2 separate regions of the Homo sapiens genome follow, and region 1 is linked to region 2. Evidence: fine-mapped expression QTL. A gene starts in region 2. The other region holds a variant in brackets. All regions are shown on one strand. Distances are from middle to middle. Region 1 overlaps PIK3R5 (phosphoinositide-3-kinase regulatory subunit 5). Region 2 holds the start of PIK3R5 (phosphoinositide-3-kinase regulatory subunit 5).

What was found. PIP is the estimated chance that this variant, and not a neighbour inherited with it, causes the effect.
Region 1: its variant is the best candidate, but not a certain one, in a credible set for the expression of PIK3R5 in whole blood (TOPMed, PIP 0.70).

What each region holds. Positions count from the first base shown.
Region 1 is chr17:8,881,852-8,887,210 of GRCh38, reverse strand. It overlaps PIK3R5 (phosphoinositide-3-kinase regulatory subunit 5), which reads left to right. Exons shown (of 19, transcript NM_001142633.3): 12 at 1-115; 13 at 606-734; 14 at 889-982; 15 at 2,428-2,504; 16 at 5,330-5,359. It overlaps LOC124903919 (a long non-coding RNA gene), which reads right to left. Exons shown (of 3, transcript XR_007065610.1): 2 at 2,028-2,645; 3 at 917-993. Among named protein-coding and RNA genes, the nearest start is that of PIK3R6, 17 kb to the right of the region's middle. RefSeq lists a silencer at 2,154-2,317. The variant A/G (reference allele first, on the strand shown) is at 2,573.
Region 2 is chr17:8,963,050-8,968,408 of GRCh38, reverse strand. It overlaps PIK3R5 (phosphoinositide-3-kinase regulatory subunit 5), which reads left to right and starts at 2,702. Exons shown (of 19, transcript NM_001142633.3): 1 at 2,702-2,813. PIK3R5-DT (PIK3R5 divergent transcript) reads right to left here and starts at 2,562. Exons shown (of 3, transcript NR_184080.1): 1 at 2,406-2,562; 2 at 568-1,642. RefSeq lists silencers at 2,289-2,388, 2,459-2,778.

The DNA.
Region 1 (5,359 bases), 81 kb after region 2:
CACCCCATGGGAGGAGAGCACCAATGACATCTCCCACTACCTCGGCATGCTGGACCCCTGGTATGAGCGCAATGTACTGGGCCTCATGCACCTGCCCCCTGAAGTCCTGTGCCAGGTAAGTGGCCCCGTGGTTGCGGAACAGGGTCCACTGGCTGCAGTCACCCAGCCTCACTTAGAAGGCCCTGGATTTAGGGAATCAGGCTTGAGGCCCCCATGGAGGACCTGGGCCCTCTTGGAAAAGATCAGGGAGTGTGGGTGAGAAGCAGGACTGAGCCTGAACTCAGGACACTGAGTGTGAGAGCTGGGGTCACTGCAGTGATGGAGGAGGGCCCTCAGAAGGGTCCGGGGGACCTCAGATTTCAGCCCCCTTCCTCAACTCCCGCCTTTGTCTGGCTAAGCCAGAAGCCTCCCTGGAGGCCAGTGGGTCAGGTGAGGGGCATGGAGGCTGGGCACCGGCCCTCCCCTGCTTCCTGCTTCCACCTCACCAGCTCCCCCTGACTGGCTGCCTCTATGTCTCTCTTCTCTCTTCCTCCCTAATTCTTGCTCCTTCTTACCATCTATCCACCCACCCATCTGGCTTGGCTGCCCCTTCCCTCTGGCCACAGCAGTCCCTGAAGGCTGAAGCCCAGGCCCTGGAGGGCTCCCCAACCCAGCTGCCCATCCTGGCTGACATGCTACTCTACTACTGCCGCTTTGCCGCCAGACCGGTGCTGCTGCAAGTCTATCAGACCGAGGTAAGGCCTCCCTGCCCCGAACCGCCTCTTCCCCACCTGCCGGGCCTGCAAGGCCCCACCCCTGCCCCGGGAGAGCCAGCAGGTCTATGCTGGAGGAGCCAAATGGGCCCCTCCAGGAGGTTCACACTGATGTACATGCTCCTGCCCTCTCCAGCTGACCTTCATCACTGGGGAGAAGACGACAGAGATCTTCATCCACTCCTTGGAGCTGGGTCACTCCGCTGCCACACGTGCCATCAAGGCGTCAGGTGGGTACTGCCTGAGCAGAGACAGACGGTGAGGCGGGGCCTGGGACGCGAAACGTGGAGCTCTGTGGAGGTGGGGTTACCTGGGAGGTGGGGCCATGGGAAGGTGGGGTTGCACAGGAGGTAGGCCCCTGGGGAGACGGGGTTACCGGGAGGTGGGGCCATGGGGTGGCTGGGTGACCCGGTAGGCGGGGCCCTGGGGAGGCAGGGATACGGGAGGTGGGGCCACGGGAAGGTAGGGTTACCCAGGAGGCAGGGCCATGAGAGGGCGGGGTTACCTAGGAGGCAGGGCCATGGGGAGGCGGGGTTGTCCGGTAGGTGGGGCCTTGGGGAGGCAGGGTTACCGGGAGGCAGGGCCATGGGGAGGCGGAGTTACCCAGGAGGCGGGGCCCTGGGGAGGCGGGGTTACCCAGGAGGTGGGGCCATGGGAGGGCGGGGTTACCCAGGAGGCGGGGCCATGGGAGGGCGGGGTTACCCAGGAGGTGGGGCCATGGGAGGGCGGGGTTACCCAGGAGGTGGGGCCATGGGAGGGCGGGGTTACCTAGGAGGCAGGGCCATGGGGAGGCGGGGCCCTGGGGAGGCGGGGTTACCCAGGAGGTGGGGCCATGGGGGGGCGGGGTTACCTAGGAGGCAGGGCCATGGGGAGGCGGGGTTGTCCGGTAGGTGGGGCCTTGGGGAGGCAGGGTTACCGGGAGGCAGGGCCATGGGAAGATGGAGTTACCCAGGAGGCGGGGCCCTGGGGAGGCGGGGTTACCCAGGAGGTGGGGCCATGGGAGGGCGGGGTTACCCAGGAGGCGAGGCCATGGGGAGGCGGGGTTGCCTGGTAGGTGGGGCCCTGGGGAGGCAGGGGTACCGGGAGGCAGGGCCATGGGAAGGTGGAGTTACCCACGAGGCAGGGCCCTGGGGAGGCGGTGTTACCCAGGAGGCAAGGCCATGGGGAGGCGGGGTTGCCTGGAAGGCAGGGCCCTGGGGAGGCACGGTTACCGGGAGGCAGGACCATGGGAAGGGGGGTTACATGGGAGGTCGGGCCAGGTGGAGGCAGGCTTACCCAGCAGGTGGGCCCTGGGGAGGCAGGGTTACCCAGGAGGTGGGGCCCTGGAGAGGCAGGACCCTGGGAAGGTGTGATCACAGCGGAGATGGGGCCCTGGAGAGGCAGGACCCTGGGAAGGTGTGATCACAGCGGAGATGGGGCCCTGGAGAGGCAGGACCCTGGGAATGTGTGATCACAGCGGAGATGGGCCCTGGAGTGATGGGGTCACTGAGGAGGTGGAGATCCCCAGAACGTGGAGCCAGAGAGAGAGGCAGGGCCTTGGTGAGACAGATCCCTAGGGAGTCACGGTCCATGTGGTAGGGGATGGGGAGGTAAGGCCCAGGGAGGCAAGGCCACTGCGTTCGTGAGGAGCCGGGGAAGCCAGGGGTAGTGAAGGGTCTGTCTGTGTGTGGCACAGGTCCTGGCAGCAAGCGGCTGGGCATCGATGGCGACCGGGAGGCTGTTCCTCTAACACTACAGATTATTTACAGCAAGGTAAGACCCGTGCTGGGGCTCCTTCCCCTCCAGGATCTGCTGCTGATACTTCCTCCGCCAGAGCTTGG[A/G]CCCAGAGCTGGACTCGTGTGTTCCTGGGCCCCAGTCTTTACGCTGGAAGGCTGCAGCAGGCTCCCCTGGATGCTGAGAGAAGCAGAGAAGGGAAGGAGTGGATATCTCTGTGCTTCTTGGCCTCCAAAGCCTCTCTCCCACCATGTTCTCTGCCCCCACCCGAATGCGCTCAGCAGCAGCCCAGGGGTAGGGGTCTGCTGGGCCTGGCTACAGGGCTGGGGCTGAAAGGGGGAAAGGGAAGCCTTCCAGAGGCACCTCAGGGAGAAGCCAGGGTCTCGGGGGGCCAGTGTGCCTGGCAGGCTGCATGCAAGATGGGATTGGCGTGAGAAAGGAGTGAGGAGAGCTGTGGGGAGGTGGAGGGCTGTCCATGACATGCCAGAAGACATGAGTTCTCTGAGCAGGTCGCATCCCAAGGTCCAGGCTGAGGGAAGCTTGGCCTCACAGGTGGGCTTCTTCCTTCGGCCATTCCAAAGATATCCTCTTAGCACCTGCCCATGCTGCCTCTGTGCTGGGCAGGGGAAAAGAGGGGTTGAGCAGGGAAGCCTAGGCCTCACTTTAGCTTGTCTAGAGGAGGGAGACAGACAAGAAACGAGGAAACAAAGAAATAGCCAAGATAATTCCAGAGAGCGGCAAGTGATGACAAAGCAATAAAACAGCAGATGGACGGTGGTGTTGGGGCTGCAGTGCGTTTGGCAGTGAAGGAGGTGGGCAGGAGGCACCGACACTCACTGTAGCCACATGCCAGGTGCTTGCTAGACGTCTTCCACAGCCCAGGCACTGTTCTAGGCCCTGGAGCCTTCCTAAGAGTGAACAAAGGACAGACGTGGTCCCAGGAGACCTGCTGGCCCCCTGGAGTGGGTGGTAGGCATTGGTTCGATGATGCACACGATGTAAAATTACAACTGTGACACATGGATGAGGAGAGGGACACGGGATGTTCCTAAGTGGCAAACCGAACCCAGTCAGGAGAGTTAGTAGTGAAGGCTTCCTTGAGAAGGCACCTGAGTTAATATTGGAGGGAAAACCAGGAATTAATTAGGCTGAGAAGAGAGGTGAGTGCTCTCACAGCAGCAGAAACTGCATGTGCAAAGGCCCTGTGGTGGGAGGCAGTGTGAACACCTTGAAGCACTCTGAAAGAAGACCCCCAGGCTGGAGCAGAGACAGCTGGTGGGAACATGATGCTGAGGTGAGGCTAAAGAAATGGGGGACCAGCATACCAAGAGCCTTAATTGCAATGAAAGGAGTTTTGTGGTTTTTTGTTTGTTTTTTTGAGACATAGTCTCGCCCTGTTTCTCAGGCTAGAGTGCAATGGCTCAATCTTGGCTCACTGCAACATCCGCCTCCCTGGTTCAAGCAATTCTCCTGCCTCAGCCTCCTGAGTAGCTGGGTAGCAGGTGCCCGCCACCACACCCGGCTAATTTTTTGTATCTTTAGTAGAGACGGGGTTTCACCACGTTGGCCAGGCTGGTCTCGAACTCCTGACCTCATGATCCACCTGCCTTGGCTTCCCAAAGTGCTGGGGTTACAGGCATGAGCCACCACGCCCGACCCAATGAAAGGAATTTTATCCTAGTCCTAAGAGCAGTGGATATCCATTAAGGGGGCTTATGTTTGTGGTGGGGCTGGGAATGCCTGTGACATGATTATATCTGAGGCTTGGAAGCTCCCTCTGGCAGCTCTGTGGAGGACAGATAGGAAGGGTCCACAAGTGATGCAGGAAGGCCAGTTAGGAGGCTGTTGCCATGGTCCAGAAGAGAAATTAGGGCAGCAGCCTGCACTAGGGTAGTGGTGGCAGAGCTGGAAAGGAATGGGAGACAGATGTGAGTGATGTAATCAGCAGGGCCCATGGATGGGTTAGGAAAGGAGAGGCCAGACTCCTGGAGTCACTCCTCTGTGACTGGCAGCACCATCTTCTCTGGGGGGACCACAGGAAGAGGCCGGGGTCCAGTTGGGGAAGAGCTTGAGTTTGGGTCGGGACATATTATTGAGGTTGAGAGGCCTTGAGAGGTATAAGGAGACAGTGAGAATAGACGGCTGGCTGAACGGGCCTGACTTTGTGGTGAATATGAAGATGGGTGGACAGCTGCTAATGGAAAAAGGTCACGGAGGAGACTCCTGAAGGGGGGAAGCAGGGAATACAAAGAGCAGAGGACCAAGGGGAGAACCTTGAGCCCTTCATGATGTAATGGCGGGCAGAGGGCAGCGATCCAGCAAAGCAGAGAGGCACCAGCCAGAGAGGCGCTAGAAAAACCAGGAAGGTGCCATCACGAAAGCCCAGGAGAGGTTTTCAAGGAGGGGAGAGCAGTGAACTGTAAGGTCAAGTAAGCTGAGGACCAAGAAGTGTTCTTCGGTTTAACAACATGGAGGTCCCTGATGACAGAGACATTCACACAAAGACTTGAAGAGGGGGTTCAGGTCTGGCTCTGCCAGAAACAGCATGTCTGTGGGCCCAACCCTTCTTCACTCTGGGCCCGGCAGGAGAGCTTCAGGACCACCCCTGCAGGTGCTCTCAGCTCTTGTACCTTTCAACCTGGTCACAGAGGCTGCTGACCCCTAGACCAAGCCAGTGACGTGAGCTCTTCCCTGGAGTCATCCAGGTCTATCCAGGGTGGTACAGGGGCCCTGGTGAATAAGAGAGGGCTTTCTGGGGATATGCTAACTAGAGGCAACCCCCTGTCACTGATGGGCCTTCAAAGAGAAGGCAGCAGGCACCGGGGCCTCTGGACTCAGAGGGTCTGGCTACACTGCATTTCCAGGGGGCCATCAGTGGACGAAGTCGCTGGAGC
Region 2 (5,359 bases):
AGATGAGGAATTTATTTTAGGTCATGGAGTAATTAAAAGGCTTTTGGATTGATTATCTAGGTATGGGTGTACAGAAAACACTTGGAATTACAGATCTGGAGCTCAAGAGAGAAGTCTGGGCGATAGTTTGGGAGGGATCAGTATGATGGGAATGGATGAGATTGCCCAGGGAGAAGAGAAGCAGCCTTATCTGAAATCTCAAGCATTGTAATGTTTAAGAGATGATGAAGAAATGAAGCCAGAAGAAGAAAACAGAAATCATGGTGAGAGGTGGAGGAGAAGCCAAGGAGGGGATTTTCAAGAAGGAGTGGTGCCAAATGCTGTAGTGAGGTAAGAAAATGAAACCATTGGAGTTGACATTTGGGGTTTCCCTGGTGGTCTCTGTTCAGAGAATTGAGGAATAAATGTAAGATGAGGAAGTGGAGGCAGGGGTAGACTCCTCTTTGAAAACATTAGGCAGTGAAAGGAAGGAGAGTGATTTCAAAGAGCCATAGATTTTAAAACAAAGCAACAAAGGAGTTGTAGAAAGAGGTACATAATCAGATGCTTAATGAGTGACAGAGGTACCTTTCAGAGTTTTTCCAGCAGCTTTGGGGAGGTGGGAAATGGAGAATGGATAGGTGTCAGGTGCTGATCAGATCTGTGACAGGGAGACGCAGACAGAACTCAGTGTTGACGGCGTGGCATAACATGCAGGCTCCACATCTGGGCCACAGCTGTAGGTGGAGAGGAGAATGCCTACTTCTGAGGGGATGTACGATGGGACCAAGTTGGCTTCTTGGGATGCTCAGAGCCCTAGGAGTGAGCACCAATGAGCCACTCTTTTGCAGTTTTCCTCCATTTTCAGAAGGCAGGCATCCCATAATTTCTCTGGCAGATTATTTGCCTTTCCAAGTGCTCTCCTAATCCAACATTTCCATCTGGCACACAGTGTCATTCTTGCTCCTGAATTCCTGATTCCAGAGCATTTCTGCCATTTTCTTCCTTTGCACAGTGTGTACCTTCCCTCTTCTCCTCTTCTTCCAAATGTCCATATTTTTGTGGTGGAAAAAGTGGGGACAGGGGAGACAGAAGACTGGAATCCTTATCAAGTCCTCTCTCAGCCCTTGGTGGCTCTGGTTCCTTCTCTGTGAAAGGGTGACGTGTGGGGAAGGGGTTGGGGATGAGGTAGGAGAGGGGGTCTGAGTTCCTTCCCACGTCTAACGATGGCTGGAACCAGGCCTCTGTGTTCAACCAAGGGTACTTTCTGTTTCTGTCCATTTGGGGAAGTTGCTTTTTCTTGGTATTTCGGGAGTCAGGAAAAGAAAAGTCATTGGTGTTCATATCTCTCAAAGCCTCAGGTAGGGCTGCGGCTTTTGACCAACAATAACGTATGACCATGACCTTGTGGCCGAGTTTGCACGCCTCTAACAGATATTATGACACAGTTCCATTCAATAGTGGAAGTGGAGATTTCAGCGTTGCCCTTTGTTAACCCACAAATGAAGTGCTACTCTTCCATTGTGAGGGCTGTCGGAGCAGTAGCCAACCTTCTTATCCCCATTTTTTAAACGAGGGAAAGGAGGCATAGGAAGCGCAGTGTCTTGTGGGATTCCCTGGGGAGTCCTTCCAACTCTTGGTAGAGCATCATCTGCAACGTCGTCTGGGGGAGAAAAGGGGGAGGCAAGAAGAGGGCCTTGACCCTGGAGGCAGGAACTCCCGCACACCCTCACTCCCTTCCCCAGGGGCTGGGGAAACCACTCAGGTGACAGTAGCCTTGGTGCCGGCCAGGGAGGGCGGGAAGTCCAGCCAGAGGCTGGAACAGCAGTGCTGAACGCCGGGACTGGCTGGTATTTCTATGAAGGTTCCTGCAGAAGGATGCGGGTCAAGGTGCCCGTCTGCACAGCAGTAGTGCAGGCATTTTAAGGGTTAAGGGCACCCAAAGAAAATAGAAGTAGGGGCCGGGCGCAGTGGCTCACGCCTGTAATCCCAGCACTTTGGGAAGCCGAGGCGGGCGGATCACGAGGTCAAGAGATCGAGACCATCCTGGCCAACATGGTGAAACCCCGTCTCTAGTAAAAATACAAAAAATTGGGCGTGGTGGCGCGCGCCTGTAGTCCCAGCTACCCGGGAGGCTGAGGCAGGAGAATCGCTTGAACCCGGGAGGCGGAGGTTGTGGGGAGTCAAGATCGTGCCACTGCACTCCAGCCTGGCGACAGAGCGAGACTCCATCTCAAAAAAAAAAAAAAAAAAAAGAAAGAAAATAGAAGTAGGAAGAGGAAGTGGGTCGCAGTGAGAGAAGGAAGCAGCTCGTCGGAGCTTCCTCTTTCTCGTCTTTCCCCTAAGCCCCTACCCCAGACCTGCCCCCCTGCTCCGCCCAGCCCTCCTGCGGGGCCAAAGCCGCGCTTCCGACGCGGGGGCCTAACCTCCCCTTACTCCTTGGGGGTCGCTGGTGCTCCGCGCTGGTGCCCCTCGGGCCACTGCCATGGACCGGCCAGGGTCTGCTTCTTCCGAGGGCTGGCGGGTCAGAGCCGGGGCTGCTTCTCAGACGCCTTGCGGCCTCGGGGGCGTGACCCAGAGGATGTGGGGCCGGGCGCGCACCTGGCTGACGCTGCCGGGCCGCCAGGTGGCTGGAGAGGCCGGCTCCGCGGTCAGCCCCGCCCCATTAGGCCCCGCCCCCTGACAGGCTCCGCCCCGCCCGCCGGAGGAGCCCAGGCTGGGCAGATGCTGCGGCTCGCCGCGCGGCTCCAGCTGGGGCGCGGTGGTCCCGACGGTCACCCGAATCGCAGGGAGTCGCCGCTGGAGAGGGGCTCGGCGCCCGGCGGGGACTGCAGGTGTGTGACTGGGCGGCCAGGGCGGATGCGGAGGGCACGCATGGGAGCTCCAGGCAGAGCTGGAGCAAGCTGGGGACCGTCGGGGAGAGTGGGCTCCGCGAGCAGCCGCCGCAGCCCGAGGGCTGGACAGATCCTGCTATCTTCCGGCCCCGTGGACCTGGCCCACCGCGGGGGCAGCGGGTCTGCAAACCTGCGCTCCAGATAACCCCAGAGACTTAAGGGGCGTCGCGGGGACCACTTATCGTTATCCGGGTAACCTCTGCTGGGCGGCTCTGCGCAGCTGTGTCCTCAGCCTCCTGCCTCTGACACAGGACGCCCTGTGTCGTAGGGTCAGGTCCCCTGCCCGCTCCAGCGGGGAACTGTCCGTGAGCGTGGGCATCAGGGCTCTTGTGCCGTCAGAACCTGGGAGTCATGGAAGTGCCCGCGTAAGGCGCCCTCCGTCGAGCCTCACTCAGCCTGCTAGTTAGCCAGCCTTGGGCCCAGACGCGGCTGCTGTCCTAGAGAACTGCACGCTTTCTGCTCTCAGAGGATCTGTGTTTACACACTGGACATCCCCGCGTGACTCGTGTGTGTGTGTGTGTGTGTGTGTGTGTGGGCATGCGCATGTGCGCGTGCTGGCCCATCCCGGCCTGGGGTAAATACACAAAAAGTTCAGGTCAGTAGGAGGAAGGAGATTGTTCAGAAGGAAAAGGAAGGCGAGGTTAAAGCAGCAGGATGTGGTATAAAGCGAGTTAACAAGACTCGGAGTAGAGAGGAGGGGTGGGTTTAGGCAGAATAAGGGCTAAAAGTAGGCCAAGCCTGCCTCCAAGGTCCTCTCTGGACTGACACCCTCGTTTTCCTTCTGTGTCTTCTCATCCACCCCACACTTTCCTTCCTGCCCTCAGGACCACCTGTAAGGCACTGGCTCCCAGAGCTGACTGCAGGTAGGGCTCTCTTGGAGCCAACCCTACAACGTGGCTTTCCAGGGATGGGATCTGGAATCTGTAGTTTTCAAAACTTTGAATGAGCTCCTTAAGTGATGATGCTGAAGCCGTTGCTTGGGAACCATGCATGATGTGGAAAAGAGACCCAAGTTCCAACCGGATCCAGCTGTGTGACCTGCAGCATCACACTGTCCCCCAACCCAGCCTCAGTCTCCTGATTCATAAAATGGGCTGTCATACTGACCCATAGAGCTGTGTGGAATTATTATTATTATTATTATTGAGACAGGGTCTTGCTCTGTCACTCAGGCTGGAGTGCAGTGGCGTGATCATGGCTCACTGCAGCCTTAAATTCCCAGGCTCAAGCAATCCTCCGCCTCCGCCTCCCAAGTAGCTGGGATTACAGGTCAGCACCACGGCGCCCAGCTAATTTTTGTATTTTTTGTAGAGGCAGGGTTTTGCCATGTTGCCCAGGTTGGTCCCAAATTCCTTGAGCTCAAGCGATCCGTCTACCTTGGCCTTCCAAAGTGCTGGGATTATAGACATGAGCCACTGTGCCTGGCCCAGTGTGGAAAATTAAGTGAGGCATGTATGATGAGAACGGCTGCACGTGGGAGATGCTCCGTGGATGTTTGTAGAACGCTGGCTTCCGTGTTTCCTCGTTGTGGCTGTGGTGGTGTGGGTCTTTGCCTGTGGACCCGTGGAAGACAAAGAAGACAGTTTTGGATGGTCAAGCTACTTTCTTGCTTCAGGGCTCCCTCCCCTGCTTTTTGAAGCCTCACAAACCAGGACTGTGAGGGCAGGAAGGCTTGGGGTCTTTGTGTGCTGAGCCTCATTAGGGTTTTAAGAACCTCCCTCCTTTCATCTCTAGCTTACGAGAGGGATGATTCATTATCTTCCCTCCTCAGGCTGCAGTAGAAGCAGACAGTCTCTGCCTCCCTGCTTGCCTTTCCTCCCTCCCATTCACTGTTGATTATTGCCCTCAAGAATAACAGGTTGCCCAGCTACTCGAGAAGCTTAAGTGGGAGGATTGCTTGACCCCAGGAGTTCGAGGCTGCAGTGAGCTATGATCGCTTCACTGCGCTATAGCCTGGCAGACACAGAGAGACCCTATCTCAAGCAAACAGACAAACAAAAAAAAAAAAAGAAGAAGAAGAAGAAGAATAGGTTGGATGCTAACTGGTGGCACTGGGTGACAAGAGCATTTGGGGTTGATGTTGGCATGAGGATGAGAAGGCAGGGGTGCAGGCTGCTCCATACCCCTGTGTTAGCCATCCATCAGGGGCCTGCTGGCTGAGGAGTGGGAGAGGAGGAGAGCCAGGATCCTTTTTGCCTGGGTAGCCTAGAGTTTGGAAGCCCCAGCTTGGGTTCCACTGAGCACTCAAGCTGTGCTGACTTGGCCTTTCTTCAAAGATGCTCATCCCAAGGGACTGAGCTGCGTGGCCCTGTGGGACCTCTGAGAACCAGAATGCCTGTTTGGCCTCAGCTGGTGAGCTAAAAGCCTGAACCAATGTGTTAAGAAAGAAAGCTGGCCAGGCATAGTGGTTCATGCCTATAATCCCAGCACTTTGGGAAGCCAAGGCTTTGAGGCCAGGAGTTCGAGGCTGCAGTGAGCTATGATCG